Homo sapiens: one gene and its partners. The gene in region 3 interacts genetically with the main gene of each other region. Each region holds a gene or a part of one and is shown on either strand. Other genes may lie near its edges. The genes, in order: TRPC6, C1GALT1 and MGAT1.

The links.
Region 1: of MGAT1 (region 3) and TRPC6, a change in one rescues a mutant of the other (synthetic rescue), as found in Homo sapiens cells (one study listed by BioGRID).
Region 2: of MGAT1 (region 3) and C1GALT1, changing one enhances a phenotype caused by changing the other (phenotypic enhancement), as found in Homo sapiens cells (one study listed by BioGRID).

What each region holds. Positions count from the first base shown.
Region 1 is NC_000011.10:101,468,955-101,476,065, forward strand, and holds part of TRPC6 (short transient receptor potential channel 6), read right to left. Parts: intron 4,820-7,111; coding exon 4,555-4,819; intron 3,379-4,554; coding exon 3,183-3,378; intron 2,433-3,182; coding exon 2,229-2,432; intron 548-2,228; coding exon 473-547; intron 1-472. UniProt on the Homo sapiens protein: Forms a receptor-activated non-selective calcium permeant cation channel. Probably is operated by a phosphatidylinositol second messenger system activated by receptor tyrosine kinases or G-protein coupled receptors.
Region 2 is NC_000007.14:7,227,436-7,234,546, reverse strand, and holds part of C1GALT1 (glycoprotein-N-acetylgalactosamine 3-beta-galactosyltransferase 1), read right to left. Parts: intron 245-7,111; 5' UTR 228-244; coding exon 8-227; intron 1-7. UniProt on the Homo sapiens protein: Glycosyltransferase that generates the core 1 O-glycan Gal-beta1-3GalNAc-alpha1-Ser/Thr (T antigen), which is a precursor for many extended O-glycans in glycoproteins.
Region 3 is NC_000005.10:180,785,760-180,792,870, forward strand, and holds part of MGAT1 (alpha-1,3-mannosyl-glycoprotein 2-beta-N-acetylglucosaminyltransferase), read right to left. Parts: coding exon 5,875-7,111; 3' UTR 1-5,874. UniProt on the Homo sapiens protein: Initiates complex N-linked carbohydrate formation. Essential for the conversion of high-mannose to hybrid and complex N-glycans.

The DNA of each region.
Region 1 (7,111 bases), on a different chromosome or scaffold from region 3:
GAGCTGATAGATCTCTAGAGTACATTGTTCATTATACACGGTGTCGACCACAATAGCCATTAAGGTCCCACAGTGCCTTTTTCCATCGCTTCTTGATTATTGACAAATTAGGAGGCACTGGGGACCATGCCTGCTCTCTACCTGAGCTGCAAAGAGTGAAGTTAATCATACCCTCCATCAGGTTCCTGACAGAATATTCCCTTCTTTATATCACCAGTCTTCTATTCCATCACCATAAGTATATATATGTGCTTAGTATATGTCTTAAATGTACATGCTATTCTTTTTTGCTTATCAAACATAGCTTATTTCTACCTCTCAATAACAGAATTGTTGAGATTTGTTAAAATAGTTGAATTATTTAATGGGTCTGTTCTCTACTTGCTAAAATTGCTTCTGAACATCTGTCCCTTTCTTTGAAAAGATAAGCCCGATCATGTGCATGACTTCATATTTTCAAATATGAGCTTACCTGTTTTTTGTCAAGTGATAATTTTGAAAGGTCTTCATGACTTCCTAAAATTCCAAGTTTCTTTTCTTCATTTATCTTTTAAAGATAGATAGTAAAATGAGTATAACTGCATAACCAATTTCACTCTTCATTCTGTATTTTAAAAGCCATTTCGTCTAATTCTCCAACAAGTTTTAATGAGAGAAACATATTCTTACGGGGTTCTTCCCTTTGCAAGTGCTTGCTTAGACATTTCCTTTGGACTCTGAATTCCCTCAGGTTGCAGTTCTAACCAGACCTGTAAACCACCCATTTAATTAAGTAAAATAAAGGAAGGGAAATTTTTGCCACTCAATCCACTGAGTTCTGTAAGTTATACTTCTGGAAGAATATCATAGATTGTATTTTTTCCAAAATTCCTACACAAATTAATCATAATCACATTTAAAGAAAGCTTTAAAATTCTCAAAGTACTTTTATATACTTATTTGAGTTGATCTTCAGGATGTAGATATAATTTTTTTCACATATTACAGTTGAGGAAACTAGAACTCAGAGAATGTGCTACTTACTTGAGCACCCTAAATAGTAAATGGGAAACAGTGCAGGAATTACAACATTTTCCTTTTATTTAATGATAGAATCTTATTGCAAGGAAACTTTATAATCATTTGGCCCAATTGCCCACTCAGTGTAAGAAGGAAAAATCTTCAATACATTCCCACTGTCAGCCATCTGGCATTTATTGACTTCTTACAATGGTGGGAGGCTCACTACTTCTAAAGGCAGCCCATTCTTCTGTTGGGCAGATTTTCTTATTAAAAGTTTGCTCTTATATCGAATTAAAATTTAACAATTTGAATTTTTGGCCCATTGCTTTTCTTCCCATTTTTGAAAAACAAGTGTACTTCCTAATTAAAGATGGAAATTACAAAGATATTTTTAGTCACTTTCAATCTTCCTTTTTCAGAAGAAACAGCCAGCTCCTTCAGTCCTCCCTCATATGACACTTTATCCATATGTGTTCCATTCTGGTCCTCCTCCTCTGGATACACCTGGTATCTCAGTGCTCCTTCTGAGTACAGAGGTCTAAATGCTCAGCAGAGATCTTTGCATAGCATAAGCCCTCACCTTCCACCTCCAGTGAGACACAAATTCCACATGTTCTCTAAACATATCTGAACATGCTGTGATCGCCCTACTGCCTCATCTAAGCACTAAATCTTTTTATTTTTTTTAAAGATTGCATCACCTTGTGGGATTACTGTTTTCAATCAATGTCCTTAGCTCTTTCTTTCTTGAACTACTTATTGCCAAGCCTGGTCTCCCAAATTCTATGTGAGCAACTGATTTCTGAACTTTTCAATGTAGAAGCTATCTAAGAGTTAATCAAGTTGCCCCGCCCCCCCCCCCTCCCCGAGTCATAACAAGCTGCTGCCGATTTACTGGGCTGTATAAATTGTAGGAAAAGTGAGGGACATGTAGCCATAACAGCAAAAAAGCAGCCCAGAATAGTTCTTCTTTCAGTACCCACTCCAGATAACATATTATTTTAGTTATATTTCATGAATTTTTCTTACATTCTTTTAAGTAGGAAATGTCCAGTGTGCTCATGTTGAACAGACACAAGCCAAAGGACTGTGCTGTGTGAAGTGACTGCATATGGGAATGAATGGATGTGTCATCAGGAACTGCTTCTCTTTAAAGGGATGTGGCATAGTGGTTACAGTAGTCACAAAATTTAAGAATACAATGATAACTTATCAAGCTAAGTTACCTTGTTCATCTCTGCATCTTCCTGGAAACCTTTTTTATGGCCCTGGAACAGCTCAGAAATCCATTTTTTAAGCTTCAGTAAGAGATAAAACAGGGACTTTGGACTCGGCACCAGATTGAAGGGTACAGGAAGTGTTCTGCCCTCCTCAAAGTAGGAAAACCAGAGTTTGGCCCTTGCAAATTTCCACTCCACATCAGCGTCATCCTATACAAATACACATGACAGTTCAGCAAGGAAATGCATAAACAGAATTACTGGGATGCTTTTAACATTGTGTAGCTAGATGGAGGACAATGCCTATAAACACTCTCAGACCCCAGTGATCGTTCCAAGATTTTTTCAAAATGTTAACATTCTATTCACATATTCTTTCTTAAATTTGTCTAAAATTTTGACAGTCTTGCAAGACTATTAATCTCCAAGTTCCCATGTGTTTATAAATACCTGATAGATATAAATGTATTTTCCTACTTTCTGAAAAATGCTATGAAAAATTATTCTCTCTTTTATTCTGAAATATACCACTCATTTATTTGGGACACAGATCAAGATTTCTGGAATAAAAATTTACACTATTAATCTCAACTTGAGAAAAGGTCAATTTTGAATATCACTCAAAAAAGACTTGGAGAATGATGGTATTCATAAGCAATAATTTTTTGAATAAAATATAAATTCATGCTGATATAGTATTTCTAAAGTTTTTTATTAAATTAGTATCAAATCAGCATTTCTGCTTCTTATGCCTTACGTCTCTGCCCCATGACACCTTACTGATGTTGCATTTGGAAGCAAAGAGTTAAAATTTTCCAGATTACTGGTCAAACGAGTGTATAAAACAGGGAATGAACAAAGGGCGAAGAGCAGTCCATGCTTTCATCCCCATTGCTGAGTTAGCCCTTGGAATAGTTAAAACATGAAGGCACAAATTATAAAAATGTATTGAGATTATACCTCAATTTCCTGGAATGAACTGTTGATCATGGCAATTAACATATTTAGCAAAACAATGACCATCGTAACATTATAGACTCCATAAAGAACGTAACCAATGTTTTCAATGAATTTGTGGTTATAGTTGATGACCACTGATTTCACTTCAGAAAGTCCAAATATAGCCCAGAACAGTGTCTTAAAACTCTCTTCAACTCTGGGGAAAAAATAACAGAAGAAAAGAAATAAGAAAGTGTATAAATAAATAACAATATTACCATAATAAAAGTGAGTTTGTTTAGTGTCTGCAAATTAGTGAGTATAAAAAAAATTCTTCACTTCTCTGAAGCTCACTTTTCTTTTCTGTAAAATGGTTACAATAGGATTGCTGCAAGGATGGGGTAATATTGTGCATATGAAGTACATAATCATAGCTCAATATCTAAATACATAAGCACTCAATAAATGCTATTAACATAATTTCATAACCACAGATATGAACACTTAATCCATAGCGTTGGCAATGGAATTGTTAGAATCCTTTTAGGTTTCCTCCTGATCTATACTTCTACTCATATCCAATAGATAATAATCATATACATCTTAATGGAAAATACAATATAAACAGACAATGTTACCAAAATCACTGACATGTCTTAGGTAGGAATTTCAATGCTTTAGGCCTAATTATTGACCAAAGCTAAGCCAGTTTGCTTAACTCAGGTGGTTTCACTTCCCTGGCAAACTGTATTTTAGAGAAATATGGAAAACAGTAGGCTTACATTTCAGTTGTTGCTTCTTATTATAACACTGAAGACCTAATATTTAAATAATCTATTCCAAACACACTTTATGAAAAAAAAAACACGTGTCCATGGTGAACATAAGTCAAAACTCTTGCCACTATTGATAAGTCATATCTACTCAGTGATAAGATCTGAGAAATTCAATTAGGAAAGTAGCTGTTTTCATAGTTAGCATCCCCAGGAGTGAGTCCCCTGTAAGCAGGAGGGTAAGGGAGTTTAGAGCAACAGACCCTAGAGTCAGCAAGCAAGGGTTACAGCCTGGCTTGTTCCACACACAGCTATGGAATATTCAGCAAATTACTTAATTTTTGTGAATTTCAGTTGCCTCTTGGTGAAATAGAGATAATAAAGGGAGGCATGCAAGGTATTTACCTGGCTCTAAAAATGTAAGTTATTATTTAATATTAGAAAGCTTCCTATATTTTAGAGTCCCTCCAACTCATTTGTAAAATCCCCTCATTTTGCAAAACAGGAACTAGAGATGAAGTCTTTACCAAAACATTATCCCATGGACTTACATAAACGCTGTTAAACTAATATTTATTTAATTTGCAATAACTATCATCAAAATATCTGAGATCACATACGTTGTGAAGGCTTCATTTTGTTTTGCACCAATGTAGTAGGAGTAGAGATTGAACATTCCAATCATAAAGGCCACAAACACCATAATGAATATGACCATGAACTTGAAGATGTCTTTGACTGTTCTTCCAAGTGATATCTGCAGAGGTCCAAAGCTTTCATTTGCTGGTAAAATATAAGCTATCCTAGAGAAACTTAAAACTACAGCAATTGCATAAAGACCTTCAGATATTATTTGAGGATCAGAGGGGTCCCACTTTATCCTGGCTAGGAAAAAGCAAAGACAAAGAGTTGTGTGAGTTTCTTCAAGTTTTTTATTTAGGTAACTTCTTTTTCTGCGAAAGAAATATAGTTATGTTAGAATCCGGTTTTCGAATGGAAGTCTCCTATCTTAAAGGGCTTCTTAAGTGTCTGCTAGAGTTGAGCTTCTTAGTTTATTGAGAACATGACTCTCCTGGTTTACTAGCAATTTCCCATAAGGGGATAGCATAATAGTTAAGAGTTCAGACTATAGACTCAGTATCTGTAAAAATTCATGTATGTATGTACGCACACACACGTATAACAAAGAACTTATGCAAACTACTTCTCTAGTTTTGTTTCCCCATTTTTGAAAATGAGATAATATCCCTTCTAACTCTCTTGTCTTCGTGAGAATTCAGTAAGTCAGCATATGTTCAGCGTTTAGCAAGTGCCTGGCACTTAATAAATGGTAGCGTTTATTATTCAGTCTTAAACTATAATTACACTATAATATAATTTTAGGCTTGTAGCATATTTGTAGTCATTTAAATGTATTAGAAGTAACTTTTATTGGTCACTCAAACAAGTCTATTTTTACCATAAAATGAAGCAATTATTCACTTATGGATTTTTTTGGCATTATTACATCAGGTCATCAAAAATGCAACTAAGAAACCATTATGAAGAAAAACACAAAACAGTGTGTAAGAAAGGGGAAAAACATAATTACAAATTTGTATTTGCTTATTTGCTGAGAAGTGGAATTAGGAGAGGATAACAAGAAACTAATAAAAGCAGTTTCCTTTTTTATAGTGCTTTGAATATAAGTATTATCTACAAATAGCTTTGAATTTTTTTAATTAAGTGCATTTTAAAAAATCTTAAAATTAAACATTAAAATAAACATTAATAATAATAATGGAGGCCTTATGTGATATTGCCAATAAACTCACAAGTGAATGTTAACTAATTTCTTATCAGAGGGTTTGAAATGAGTATTCAAAGGGAATATATTTTCCCCATCCAGGTTTCTACGAGGTGGTAGTCTCCTTAAGTACATAACTGGACCAATTTCCATCCCTTAGTCACTTTCTTCCTGGAAAGCTGGAATGACTTATCTGATTGCTAAATTGGGATGAATAACTGGACATAGTTAGCTCGGCATTACCTTCTCTCTCTTGGGAATTCTCCTCTGGTCCTCCATGGAAGATCTCACTTGATCGGGCACTTGCTGCCATCCTCTTTTTGTGAGGAGGACTGCCCTGGCCCATTGCTATCTAGAAACTGGAGGATATGTCTGCCTAATTCTGGGGTTCAGTATTACTGAATCCATTAGCTAATAGAACTATGTCATCCACCCTGGATTTTATCAGTGTTAGAGGTGATGATCTGGCCTCCATATTAATTTCTTGTTTTATTTCTCAACTAATTCTAAGCCTGGTTGGGAAACAGTGGTGTTATTGATTGGGGAACCTCTCAGAGATCCCAACAATTCCTTCGTTTTCAAATACTTTTTATATATCTTAAATGAAAATGGCACTCAAATGTGAACTTTATTATATATATCTATGGGGCACAACTTGATGTTTTCATATATGTCTGTCTACACTGTGCAAAGATTAAATTAAGCTAATTAACATATTCATCACCTCGAATATTTACATTTTTGTGGTAAGAACATTTAAAATTTACTCTCAGCAATTTTCAAGTATACAGTACAGTACATGATTATTAACTCTAGCCACTATACTGTATATCTCCCTTATTATAAGCTTATTACAAGCTCCCTTATTATAAGCTCTAACTAATAAGTTAGAACTTACTCATCCTATCCGTGTACCCTTTGTAAACTTTGTACCTTTGGCCAACATCTCCCCATTTTGTGCCTTTTACCCCAGCCCCTGACAACCACCATTACCTTCTACTTCTTTGAGTTTGACTTTTTTTAGATTCCACAAATAAGTAAGATCATATACCATTTGTCTTTCTGTGCCTGCCTTATTTCACTCAGCATGATGTCTTCCGAGTTCATTCATGTTGTTACAAATGACAGGATTTTCTTCTTTTAAAAGGTGGAATACTATTCCATTGCACATATATATACACACACACACATGTGTGTACATATACATATATACACGTGTGTGCATATATACACACACGTGTATATATACATATACATATATATGTATACAGAGAGAGAGATACAGAGAGATAGATCAAACGTGAACTATTTTTAATTAAAAAAGAGGGAAAAATAAATCCAGGACATAAGACATGTATTCTCCATGAAGTTTGATAAGTAGCCAATTGATC
Region 2 (7,111 bases), on a different chromosome or scaffold from region 3:
ACCATACCTTTATGTTGGCTAGAATCTGCATTGAAGTTCATTTGTCCTTCTAGATGATTCTGTCCATTATCATCTGAATGCCTTGCATGAGGATCATTATGAAGAACATTAGGCTGGGTGTCAACCTTTTCTCCCAACAAAATACTAAATAGCTGAGAACATAAAAGAAATCCTATTGCTGATCCACAGAGGAAGGTTAAAAAATTCAGCCAGGATTTAGAGGCCATTTCCCGAAAGTGTATTTCTGTAAGAACAAAAATTAGCAGGATGTTATAAAATCAAAGCTGTATACATAACCGGAGTAAAAATTCTGGTAACATTTAGCTATAACGGAAAGTTAATTTCTAACAGTATTTAGCTATTATCTATGAGTTTACCCCTCTATTTGCTGCTAAAACAGCACATTATGGAAAATCCATAAAACCAGATTAATTAGTAGGACAGTCACAGTTGGGGTGGGGTATGGATGAGTATGTCAGTATTGCACACAGAATTTCCTATTCTTCCCACCAGGATCCTTTGTGGATCCAGGGCTTCCTGTCGTGTTGTTTTTCTTTCTTTGCTGTTAACTCTGAGTACGGAAGTCTACTTCTTTTTCTCTGGTAGCAACCACCACCCCTTCTCCAACCCAAAAGTTAGCAAACCCTTTCTGTAAAGAACTAGAAATAAAATATTTTTGGCTTTTTGGGTCTCATGTGGTTTCTGTTGCATCTTCTTCTTAAACAATCCTTTATAAACGTAAAAAAACACTTGTAGCTTGTGGAGGACTAGGGTCAGCACAGTTTGAGGACCCATGGACCAAACCTGGCCTGCTACCTGTTTTTGTAAATAGAGTTTTATTTGAACACACCCATGCCCATTCATTTATATACTGACTGCGGCTACTTTTGCCCTAAAACAGCAGAGTGAATAGCTACAATAGAGGCAATATGTCTCACAAAACCGTACCTAGCCCTTTATAGAAAAAGTTTGCTGGCTAGGCACAGTGGCTCATGCCTGTAATCCCAGCACTCTGGGAGGCCAAGGCGGGTGGATCACTTGAAGTCAGGAGCTTGAGACCAGCCTGGACAACATGGTAAAAAATTAGCTGGGCATGGTGGCATATGCCTGCAGTCACAGCTACTTGGGAAGAATAAGGTGAATACTTGGGAAGAATTGGTAAGAATAAGGTGGGAGAATCACTTGAACTCAGAAGGCGGAGGTTGCAGTGTGCCAAGACTGCACCACTCAACTCCAGCCTGGGCAAAAGAGTGAAACTATCTCAGAAAAAAAAAAGAAAAAGTTTGCTGACCTCTGCTCTATACTGCAAGATCTAGATTTTGGATGGAATCTATAATATTAACGAGATTAAGTAGGGTACCTGGGACACAGATGCCTGTTGAACTGCCCCACAACCAAACATTGACATAAACGCCCTTTTTAAGCTTTTGTTAACAATTACTATATGGTGAAGTTATAAACTTCTATTAAATTCCTTAAAAGATTGGTCTTAACTCTAGTTTCCTATTCCTCAAGATAATTAAAAAAATAAGTTTACTAAGCATTTATTATATACCAGAAGCTGTCCATACATTATTTCATTTTAAATAAAATTTAATTTCAATGTCCTTTTTCATTCTCACTAAACCCGTCTGCAGATGAGGAAAGAGAAATTTTAAAAAGGTAATTTTAAACAGGTAATTAATTCATATAGGCTGACACAATCAGAAGGAGCCACAGTTTGAATGTAGGTCTGTGTGCTTAAAAAGCCCATGCCCGGCTGGGCGTGGTGGCTCACGCCTGTAATCCTAGCACTTTGGGAGGCCAAGGCGGGTGGATCACCTGAGGTCAGGAGTTCAAGACCAGCCTGGCCAACATGGTGAAACCCCATCTCTACTAAAAATACAAAAATTAGCCAGGCGTTGTGGTACGTGCCTGTAATCCCAGCTACCTGGGAGACTGAGGCAAAAGAATCACTAGAACCTGGGAGGCAGGACTGCAGGACCGAGATCATGCCACTGTATTACAGCCTGGGTGACAGAGCAAGACTCTGTCTCAAAAAAAAAAAAACAAAAAAAAAAAACCCACGCCCTTTCCATTACATTTCTCAAACTCTTCACCTAATCACCACTAACAGCAGAGGGCAATGGGCAGTGAAAGTAGAGGTCTGGGAAATATAACCCTAAAAATCAAAATTGCTTTGAAATAGTTTGTGAAAGCAAAAGTACAAACCAACAATCACCACTACAATAATAAAAACAAAACAACTTCATGTATTTCTGGAATGGCTGACTAGGTTCTTTTAGTACAACCAAGTGCAATCAGAAAAACTGAACAAAATGTAAAAAAATATAAATATGTGTTTGAAGACACTGGTAAGATATCAAGGCAGTGAGAATTAGTAGGGCCAAAATCTGGAAGAAGGAAGGAAAGAGGCAGACCAGACATCTGGCACTGCTCTATCCTCAAGACAATGACTGATTCTGAAAGAGAAAACAGCAAGGGCAATAAAGCTAAGCAAAAATTAATGTCCAAAGTCTGCTTAGGAGAAGAGGTCCTGAAAAACACCTATGCTCTTATCAAGGACTCTGAAAGGCTACAATCTGAGAATAAGAACAAAACAAAAATAGACCAATCTTTACAACGGCTGAAGTCTACGTTAGAGTCATCTCAGCCACTGACTGGATGATCCGCCCTAGCCTAACTGTAAAAATATTCTCCTGGAGAAATATAAAATCATGAAGAACCTCAAATTATCATGACGACTTTTTTTTTTTTGGTATACAACATGGACAAAATTTTGATACACAATGTCCAAAACAACCAGGCATCAAGATGAAAATTACGGCTAAACACAAAAAAGTAGACAATAGAAACAGAGCCAAAAGACTCAAATAAGATTTTCATATTTTTAGCTTAGAAATAACTATTCTTAATAAAGTCAAGAAATTAAATGGCAAGATTAAGAAATTAGGCATAGAATAGTCACAGCTGAAGAAAAAAATTAATAACCTAAAAAGCTAGGTCAGAAGAAAATACGCAGAATGAAGTATGGAAAAACAAATGGATTGAAAAAGAATTGAGCAAAAAAACAGAATAAAGTGAAAGGGTCTAATGTAAGTGTTAACTGGAACCTTTGAGGGAAGAGACATAACTCAGGAGAAGTGGTATTTAAAGAAATAATGACTGAATATTTTCCGAAACTGACACAGTACCAACCCTCACATTAAAAATCTACAAAACCCAATGAAGATTACAAAGAAAAAGAAAATGTTACCTAAGTACATCAGTCAAACTACTGAAAACCAAGGACAGAAAAAAAAACTTCAAAGGTGTAATAAGATTGACAGCTGACTTTTTAGCAGCAACAACAGAATCAAGACTGCAGTGAACTATTTTTAAAGTGCTAAAAGAACAGAACTACCAACCTAGCATTCTGTATCCAGCAAAAATGTCCTTCAAGAATGAGCCTTAAAAACATGTTCAGAAAAACAAAACCTAAGTGAATTTATCACTAACAGTTCTATTTCTAATTCTTCAGGCAGAAGGAAAAGAATTTCAGATAAAAATTCAGAGATGTAGGAAGGAAGGGAGAGTCATAAAAAGGGTATGTATGTAAGTAAATCCAAATAAATATTGGCTATAATAAAACATTTTTTGAAAGTCTCACAAGATATTAGTATTATTACCATTAAAACAAATTACAAAACTGGCATCAAAAAGTATAAGGAGGATCCATAGAGTTTAAGAGCTCTAAAGTCATTTCACTGTCCAGGAGTTGTTTAAAAAAAAAAAACTGATTAATAATAGCCTTTAAAAGACCAAGGATGTCTAATATAATCTTTAAACAAACAAACAGTAAAACAATATAATTAAATTCAAATACAAAAAAATGAAATGGGAAAATACCCCAAATCAAGGCAATGTTAAAAAAAAAAAAAAAAAGGGAATATAGAATAGATGAGACAAATAGAAAATAAATAGTAAGGTGGTTGATTTAGAACCAAACATATCAATGATTATATTAAAAGCAAATAGACTAAAAACTACAATTAAAAAATAAAGATTGCCAGCCAGACTCGAGAAAAATAAACTCATCTACATGCAGCTTACAAGAGACACATATTAAATAGATTTATAAAGTTGAAAGCAAAATAATAGAAAAATATACCATACAAACAGTAATTAAAGGAAAGCTTATTGATACCACAAAAAAAACTAGTAGTTACATGGCTTGTTCTCTGTGACATTCATTAAGCTCTACATTTATGATTTTACATACTTTTCTGTATTAACATTTATTTCAGTAAAAAGTGTATACAAAAACCCATTCATGTGTCTTTATCCCATTAAGTACATACTTAATATATTCATATTTGATATAAAAATATCCCAAAATCTACAAGTAAAATTGACATGCCATGACAACACACCATGCTTATGCTGCATTATATATCTTATATTTCAGGCTCTCTCCTGAATTGTAATTCCAGTTTGGGAAGAAAAACCCTAAGAGGAAGAGGAGAGGTGAAGGAACAGCACAGTATAAGCAAAGCTGCCCAGTATCTTGAGATGTAAATTAACCATCTGAAACTATCAGATACATGTTTACACCTTTTGCTCTATCCTGACTGTACCTTCAAGTTCAGAAAGGTAGGCCTTCATGGATGATGAGTACATAGCCCCACTCAACGATCCTTCTCTCTACACCCAATCAAATTTGCCACAGGAAAACCAGAAACAAGTTTACCATGTCTTTCTGCTGTTTTCTCTGATGAGGGGGTCTCAAATTCTGCCTCCCTACTGCCCCCTTTCCCTCATTCAGGTTGGCCGTTAGTGTAATCTTTATATCCAAAAGATACAATAAAACATATCCCTCCTGTCTTAAGTGATTGTTCTGAAATTCTAAATATCTCGATTGTCTGAGGACCAGTTCATTAGACCTTGCTCTAACCAGAAATCTTGGTTTGAAATTTCATTCAAACAGCCAGAGAGAACTGATTAGTCAAGTATCTGTTCGATATTATACAAGTCCTTCCTTTAGCAGTATACATGATCAAGACAATCTACAATAGAGGTATGTGATATGAAAGTACCATGAATTGAAAACATGAAGCCAAGAGAAGTAAATGAAAGATGTTTTAACTCTTAATTTCTTATGGAGGAAGACAAGCAGAATACGATTGAAGCAGTGAACCTGGAGCATTAGCAGATACTGAGTTGTCACTCTCTACATCCTCTGATTCTCTCACTAACACTTTGCCTTACAGCACACTGATCTTGGTTTTCCATTGCTTTTTGTCCTAGCTGTGATTTTGCCTTAATACCATACACAGCCACTTCACCATCTCAGAAAAGAACAAAGACAGTATTTTACTGCTGCAGAGTCTACCGCTCCTGGCACTGGAGAAGAAAGCAGTAGTCACAATGCCATTCAGTACCACTTAGGCAGAAAGCACTGTGACTGAGAAGAGGAAGGACTGCAGGACCAGAGAAAATTCCTATTTCTATCATCATATGGATATCTGAAGTTAAAGAAGTGCTAACCCAGCTCCATCAACTATGAATACTAACATGCTACTCAATCATATTCCAAGGACATGCTGAGCTTCAGAACAAGCCTACTTCTATAACACAAAAACAGTTACTGTTTGTGGAAAGCTACTGAAGTACTTATGGACACAGTTTTTCTTAGCTGAAGAGGCACTTTTTAAGCAAGGCATCTATCCTGGAGTGAATGTAAGGAAAACTGACTTCTTGGTGTTACGTAATTGTTTTTAACTTTAAAATGTTTTGTGATGCTGTCTGATGCCTGTCATACTCTCTTACTCTTCTCCCCCAGAGTATCAGCACACTCAGAATGTGTTGGCTCCTCTTGTGTTGTGTTTACCACATTCCCTTCCAATTTAAAGGACTCCGGCCTTATGACTAAATAACTGTAAACTCCCATTTTTTTTTTTCCTGCTCCTGGGATAAAATAGCCATCTCATGGGGGTAGAATGCATCCCAAAGCTCACTCAGATTTTTGGCAAAAATCATGTCCACAAGAGTGTTGAGGTAGACTAGACTGGAAAAAGACACAGCTTAACCACACTGCACATTATGAGGGCTTAAATACTATTTCTTTGAATTGGGTGGGGGAAGTTCTTTATGCCAAGTGCTTCCAAACCTGATGTGTAATCAGAATCGCTTGAGGATATTTTAAAAGTACAGATTTCCAAGCTTGACAACTGAGGTTTCAGATACAAAAGAACTCCCGGGACAACTAAAATTTATATTTTAATTTTATTTTTAAAGGGACAGCTTTATGCTATTCATTGTTAAAAAAGGATTTAGAAGGAAGAAATCATCACAAGTCCTACTACCCAGAAACAACAATTATTAATATTTTGTGATTATCATTACAGGTTTCTCTCTAGCAATAACAAAAATAGGAGAGGTAATTACAGTTAACATTTGAACCCTGTACTAAGAGCATCTGCAAACTATAAAGTACGGACTAGTATTCCCATTTACAGATGAATTCAGACACAGAGAGTCACACTAGCAATCTGAATCAGGAATTCAGACTCTTAACCACTTTGCTATTATGTCTTAGTCCATTTTCTGGTATTTATAACAGAACAACTGAAACTGGGTAATTTATAAAGAGAAAGCATTTATTTCTTACAGTTACGGAGGCTAGAAAGTCCAAGGCCAAAGGGGGCACATCTGGTAAGAGCCTTCTTGCTGTTGAGGACTCTCCTCTGAAGAGTCTTGAGGTGGCACAGAGCATCACATGGCATGAGGGATACGCATGCTAACGTGTTAGCTTAGGTTTGTTCCTCTTCCCTTTTTTTTTTTTTTTTGAGACGGAGTCTCGCTCTGTTGCCCAGGCTGGAGTGCAGTGGCGGGATCTCGGCTCACTGCAAGCTCCGCCTCCCGGGTTCACGCCATTCTCCTGCCTCAGCCTCCCAAGTAGCTGGGACTACAGGCGCCCGCCACTACGCCCGGCTAATTTTTTGTGTTTTTAGTAGAGACGGGGTTTCACCGTTTTAGCCGGGATGGTCTCGATCTCCCGACCTCGTGATCCGCCCGCCTCGGCCTCCCAAAGTGCTGGGATTACAGGCGTGAGCCACCGCGCCCGGCCTTC
Region 3 (7,111 bases):
CTTTTCCTAAATAGAAACTCTGAAAAGTAATCAAACAGTATTTCCAAAGGAGGCTTTTGGCAGGCTTGCCTCATTGCCCTTGCAGGGAAGGCTGCCTGTCTCTAGCCATCTTCCTCTTCTTACAGCTGTGCTGAGACGTTTTTGGCTGGGGCAGGGCTGCTGCACTGAGGGTGCATCCCACCTCCTGCAGGGAAGGCAGCCAGACCACATTCCAGTGAGTGGAACGTGAGGGAAGGCTGTCTGCCCACTGCTTTTGTTCCATAAAGAATGAGGCTTGCCCTCCCTTCCCCTCTCCTGCTTCCTGGTAGCTGAACCAGGGCAGCATTTGCTGTGAGCTGGGAGCCATGTGTTGAAGACGGCGGAACAACAAAAGTGAAGACAAAAAAGAAAACTGCATCACTGGCATGTGCCCTTGTCAGTCAGCACTTCCGGGGCTGTGTGTGGCCTTCAGGAATTTCAGTTTTCATGCATGACCCTGAGAAGACTCAGCCCCCTGCCACAGTAGGACAGGTTTCTCAAACAACCCACTAGGGTTAGGGGCCCGCAGGTTTCATTCTGCCCCTCTCCAGGTCAGGGTTCCTAATGCACTCCCCCCAAAGCTCCCCATCACCCTGCCCTCTCCAAATCCTCGTCACTGTCACAAGCTTGGTCTTCCAGGCACCGTGTATGGCCGTGGTCCCTGTAGTCGCCCATACAATCACTCCCTTCTTAGTAACAGGAATCTTAATTTGATTCAGCTTCAGAAATACTTTTTCCAGCCTCTTTTGCTGACAGGGGTGCCTGTGTGATCCAGTTCTACCCAGGGAATTGTGACCCAGCGCTCTGTGAGCTTCCAAGAGAGGAGGAGGCAGCTGCCATCCACCCTTTACCTTCTTCCTTCCTCCTTCTTCCTAAAACGTGTGCTGGCTGGAGCTCCCGCAGCCAAGGAATGAGACCTGACCTCGTGCTAAGAAGAGTGAGACTGAGACCTGAGAAGGAGCCTGGGCCCTGACGGTGGAGGAACCCCCACACCAGCCTGCACCATCGACCTCTCATTTCCGTCCGGCGCTGGGATCCAGGCTTCCTGCTCTGCAACTGAATCCATTCTGACACACTGTCTTACAGTTCTGGTATAAAGGGTCAGACTTCAAGTTAGCCAAGGGAGGCAGTGGGGGAAAGTAACAGCCTTGGCACTACCCGGCCCCCTTTCTATCAACTGCCCCCGCTCTGCCCGCTCCAGACACATGTGGAGGGGGATTAAGTGTCGAGGGAGCCAAGGTGAACAGCAGGAAAAGGAAAGCAGTGGAGACAGAGATTTCCACCAGGCTTTACTCACAATGCAGCCATACGGATTAATCCCACAGCCACCACAGAAGGTTGTGTTACCCCCGCCTCACAGGAAGAGGCTCTGGCAGGAAGAACAGCTGGACCCGAGTCAGACACGCAGGTCACGGGCCCAGAGCAGGGCCGGCCCAGGCCCACCGCACTCTATGACATCGGCCACCAGGCTGGTCTCCAGGAAATAGGGCCCTGGTGTCTACTTCCTAAACTCCCTGTGAATTGCCAGGGGCCAGAATGTGGGTAGGTGGGAGAACAGATGGAGGCTGAAGGACCTCTGGTGGCAAAACACTGACCTCTACAGAGGTCTCATCAGAAAGCCTGAAATCCCACGTTAGATATTTCAGAAAGAGGGCAAGCTTCTGTTCTATACATTTGTATGTTATTTAAAGTTACACAGCCAGACAAATATGTACATAACACTATGGGTTTTGGTGGTAAATGTTTTATCTATGCATATTATGTATAGATGTGAGGAAGACGTCTGGAAGGATACACCACCCACGCGTAAACACACGTTAAGGGAGCGTGTGCAGTATGTTGTATCTAAAATGAACATGTAATACGAAAAGCCAGTAGCTGGTATTTGTAAAGGGGTGCTCTGTATCTAACCCTCTAAATGCCCCCCACCTCCCACCCTCTTGGCCTGCTCTGAGGGCTTCGTCTCCGTTTCCCTGGCCCCTCAGCCTTGGCAGGCTTCTCATGCAGGGCCCAGTGAAGGCTCAGGAGGGCCTTGGCCAGACTCCATCAGACATTTGTCTCCACTGGGGGCGACTTGATCCACAAATGAGATCCCACCAGTGACCCAGGTAAGAGGATTGCAAAGGCCAAGAGGCTTGAGGAGGGAAGGCTGCCCGGAAGGCAGTCTGTCCTGGAGACAGAGTGAGCAGGAACCCACAGTGAGAGCAGGAGTGGCAGGAGGTGGTCACAGCTGGAGGCAGAAGCAGGAATGCAGCAGCAGCAGCAGCCAGGCGCAAGGCAGCTCTGTAAACCTGCAAACTCGAGGCTGGCTGAACTCTACAGCATTGACTAACACGGGGCTTTTCCATCTGGCATTTCCACTTGCTTTGGTATCCACAGGCGCTTCCGGGCCCGGGGGCAGCCGCCACGCACACACGCATGCCACCTGAGCAAGCCTTGATGGGTGAATACCAGGAGACCCCTGAAGGTGCTCCTTGCTTCAGGAGCCTGAGAACCCAGTCTTTCGTCTTGTAAGGGGGTCCTCTGGCACCGCAGGCCCCAAACTCTACTCCTCCCGCCATCTCTCCTGGACCTCCCCGAGCCACGCAGCCCCCTCTTCCTCTCCACCCTCACAGGAGACCGCCGGTGCCTGGCCTGAGAATCCAAGTGCAGCTGGGGAATGGCCTGGAAGAGGCCGTAAAGGCTGGAATGGAACAGTCCAGCCTCACACAGTGGCTAACAGCACAGAGTTCATTCCAATCCGGCTCTCCCTCAACCATCTGTGTGACCTTGGGCAACTTCACCTCTGTGTGCCTGCTTCCTCACTGGTAAAACAGGAGCAAAACAGTACCCACCGCCTAGGCTTGCTCTGAGGATCAAGTAAGTTGGTACTTATCCTGGAGCACTAAGTAAGTTGGTACTTATCCTGGAGCACTAAGTAAGTTGGTACTTATCCTGGAGCACTAAGTAAGTTGGTACTTATCCTGGAGCACTAAGTAAGTTGGTACTTATCCTGGAGCACTAAGTAAGTTGGTACTTATCCTGGAGCACTAAGTAAGTTGGTACTTATCCTGGAGCACTAAGTTGGTACTTATCCTGGAGCACTAAGTAAGTTGGTACTTATCCTGGAGCACTCAGAACAATGCACTTGGCTAGCTGCATGACATGCTATGCGCATGGAGCGTGGCGGCCAAACTCCTCCTGGCTCCACCGGAAAGGGCACAATGCAGCTATCGCCGGGCCGATTCCACGTCTGAAATCACGGATAATGACCACCTCCCCTTATTTAACAAAAAATATGGCTAAATAATCCATCTAAGCAACAGGGGAAGGCAAAACCCGCTCCACACAAATCTCAAAGGTTAAAATAAAACCAATGTCTGACACTGGTTTCTGAGCCCAGATGGGAGGTTGGAGCTGCTCCCAAGGCCACGGCCCTCGACACAGCTCCCCAGACAACTCTGCCACCATCTGGTGTCGAGCTCCAAAGTAGTTTCTGCCAAGAAAGTTGCCTAGCCCAGGGTTTTTGGTTTGTTTTGTTTTGAGACGCAGTTTCGCTCTTACCGCCCAGGCTGGAGTGCAGTGGTGCGATCTCAGGTCACTGCAACCACCCCGTCCCGGGTTCAAGCAATTCTCCTGCCTCAGCCTCCCAAGTAGCTGGAATTACAGGCATGTGCCACCACACCCAGCTAATTTTTGTATTTTTAGTAGAGATGGGGTTTCACCATGTTAGCCAGGCTGGTCTCAAACTCCTGAAGTGATCCACCCGCCTCAGCCTCCCAAAGTACTGGGATTACAGGCGTGAGCCACCGCGCCTGGACTAGCCCAGGGTTTTCAAACCCACTCATGAAATCAAGTTCGTGAGTCACAAAAAGCGTTTTGTTTTTCCGAGACAGAGTCTTGCTCTGTCGCCCAGGCTGGAGTGCAGTGGTATGATCTTGGATTACTGCAACCTCTGCCTCCCGGGTTCAAGTGATTCTCCAGCCTCAGCTTCCTGAGTAGCTGGGATTACAGGTGTGTGCCACCATGCCCAGCAAGTTTTTGTATTTTTAGTAGAGTATTTTTAGGTTTCACCATGTTGGCCAGGATGGTCCCGAACTCCTGACTTCGTGATCCGTCCGCCTCAGCCTCCCAAAGTGCTGGGATTACATGTGTAAGCCACTGCGCCCGGCCGCGTTTTGTTCTTTTAAATGAATTAGTGGAGAACAGAAACTCTCAGAATGTTGCACGTGATATGCAGAGGTAACAGTCTGTCTGTGTTCTGGGTATTAGCAAAACAGGCACTCTCACTGGGGTTGCGTTTGGGAGTCCAAGCGCCACTGTGAGGCCAACCCTGGTATCAGCTGTGTACCCTGAGGCTCCCCGGCACGTCATAAAGGGCACTCAATAAGCACTGCCTGGGCCAGCAGAGGGCACCGGGCACAAAGCACCACTCAGGGACCACCCTGATCAGAGGACCTGGTTCTTCCCCAGACCAGGCCTGCCCAGCCAGCAGGAGGCAGAAGCAGGAGACACTCACCAGCTTTCCTGCTGCGGCCTCCTGGCTCTACAGGACGATCAGCAGGAGCACAGTCCGGGGCTCCTCTCCACCTTGTGGCCTGGACTTCCTTTCCCACCTGGCCCCCATCCCCTGGGCTGTCCCTGGCTCTTCCCTCCCACTCATCTGCTTTCTTTCCTCAACTTTGCTTCCTCCCACCCGTCTAGCCCTCTCCTTAACTCTTCATTCTCCCTTTTCCTTTCTTTCCCTGCCTGCCACCTCCTTTTCCAGGACACACACACATAAATATTTTTCAGACAATTCAGCCTTTATTTTAGAAAATAATTCTGTAGCTTCCACTTTCTTTCATGAAACTGAGGTCAGGCAAGAAACAAAAATCCACCAAGTCCTCTCCATCCTGCCATGGCGTCCTGGCCTGTGAGGACATGGGGCGCCTGGGAGCGGGCGGGGAGGCTGGGCAGCACTGGGCCAGAGGCGTCCTGGTCACTGCTCCACCTGGTCACTGCTCCACCTCATGCTGAGAGGAGCCTGTGTGTCAAACCCCAGGGGAAAAAGGGACAGGCAGATCGAATTCTGTCTTCTACCAAGCCAGCAGGAGCCTCCTAGAGCAACAGGGAGGGCACTGATTTTCAGAAAGGAGGGGTCAGGGCATAGTCCCTCTCTGAGGTAAGGCAAGAGAGAGGTTGTCCCAGCACAAGGCCTTCCTCCCTGCACCTCTCTCCTGACAGCTGGGCATGGGCTGAGGAGAGGTCTTGCTTGCCCCCTTCAACTTTCCATCTCAGAACTATAAACTGCTAGGCTGCAAGGAGAGAAGGGCTAAGTGGGGGTCAGACAGGAGAGAAGGGCAGGAGGCAGTGAGCCCCGATGACCCACCAACTCCACCAGGCCCTGACAAGGAAGCCCCTTTGGTTAGTATCATTTTGGCCACAAATATGTCCCCTTCTCCCATAACTCAGTCCCCACTGGGGGAAGGGGAGCAGGTATAGAAGGAGGGCTCGTGCCCTGGCTGGAAGAGCCAGGTCAGGGAGAAGGGGTCTGGTCAAGAGAGCGAACGTTGCCAAACTCTCTGCACATGCTCCAGGAGAAAGCTCAGGACGTGGACATTTCTGGCCCCAACAAGCCCAGTGCCCCCCACCACACAGTGGTTTCCTGCTTAATACCCCGCAACATACCCTAGAATAGTTCCCCTGATCTGACTCCCTTGAGAACGGGAGAATAATCCTCTTGTTATCATTTGTGCACTTAAATGCCACTCGGAAAAATCAAAAAGATAAATGCACCTAAGAGGGAAACACAGGCAGGCCGATGCAGCCTGGGGACTGTGGTCCCACCTCAGCTCATGATGTGGCAAGGAGGGGCCCAGGAAGGACAGGCAGGTGCTAATTCCAGCTAGGATCATAGCCCTCCCACGTCAGTGGGGGCGCCAGGTGGACACGGCGGCCCCGGAACTGGAAGGTGACAATACCCCGGTAGCCAGCTCTCGGAACCCCCGACTTAAGGTCATCCATGACACCCAGAGCCTTGGCGAAAGCCTTGAAGCTGTCCCTGCCCGTATACTGCACCCGCACCTCCCCCAGCTCCTTCCGGTCATTGGTCCTCACTTTCTCCACCTGCAGCTGGGGAGCACCGTAGACGCGGGCGAGGAAATCTCGGTCATAGGCCTCCCGCTGCAGGTAAGACAGGTCCAGCTGGGTGAAGTGCACAAACTGCTGGTTCAGCTTGATAAACTTGAGGTGCTGGTCAAAGAACTGCCCGTGGCTCACACCCTTGCGGCCAAAGGTCATCGTTCTTGAGATCTCAGGGCGTATGCAGGCCCGCCCCTGCCGCTGCTCCGGCCGCCGCATCCAGTCGTCCCAGAAGGCCTTTGGCCACTTGGGCTCCAGCTCAGCCCAGAGCTCGGCCAACAGCAGCCAGCCCAGGCCAGGGAAAAAGTCGGTGCGGTAGAGCAGCTCAGGCCTGCTGGCGTCCACCATCTGCTCCTTGCCGTTGTCATTCCAGGCCGAGACGCACCACAGGGAGGGGTCGGCCTTCAGCAGCGGATAGGTGGCCCGAAAGTACTCGAAGAAGTCCGGGGCCACCTCCAGGTCATCCTCCACCACCACGGCCGCGGGGAAGCGAAACTGCCGGAAGACCTGGCCCAGCGCCCAGCGGTAGTGGCGCGCGATCTTGTAGTAGCCCTGGAACTTGCGGTGGTCCGGCGGCACCGCAATGCTGCTCAGGTCGGGCTGCCGGATGTGCGTGACCGCGCTGCCGTAGGAGGCGATGGCCTGGGCCGTCTCCTCGTGCCCGCAGTCCTGGCTAACGATGATGGGGAAGAGCTCAGCCGAGGGCCGATAATGCAGCAGCTTGTCCAGGCAGCGCCGAACAGTGCTGCGGTCACAGGCGATGACCAGGATGGGAATCACCGCCGGCGCGGGGGTCACAGGCACACGCGGCTGGGCGGGAGGGGCCGCGGTGGGCACCCTCCCCCGCTGGCTCGACAGGGCATCCCCGATCTGCTGCAGCAGCCCACGCTGCCGCTCCAGCTCCACCTCGGCGTCTTGGGCCAGGCGAATCACTTCCCGGGTGAGGCTGGCGGGGTCGCCATCGAGAGCGCTGACTGAGGGTGGCCTGCCA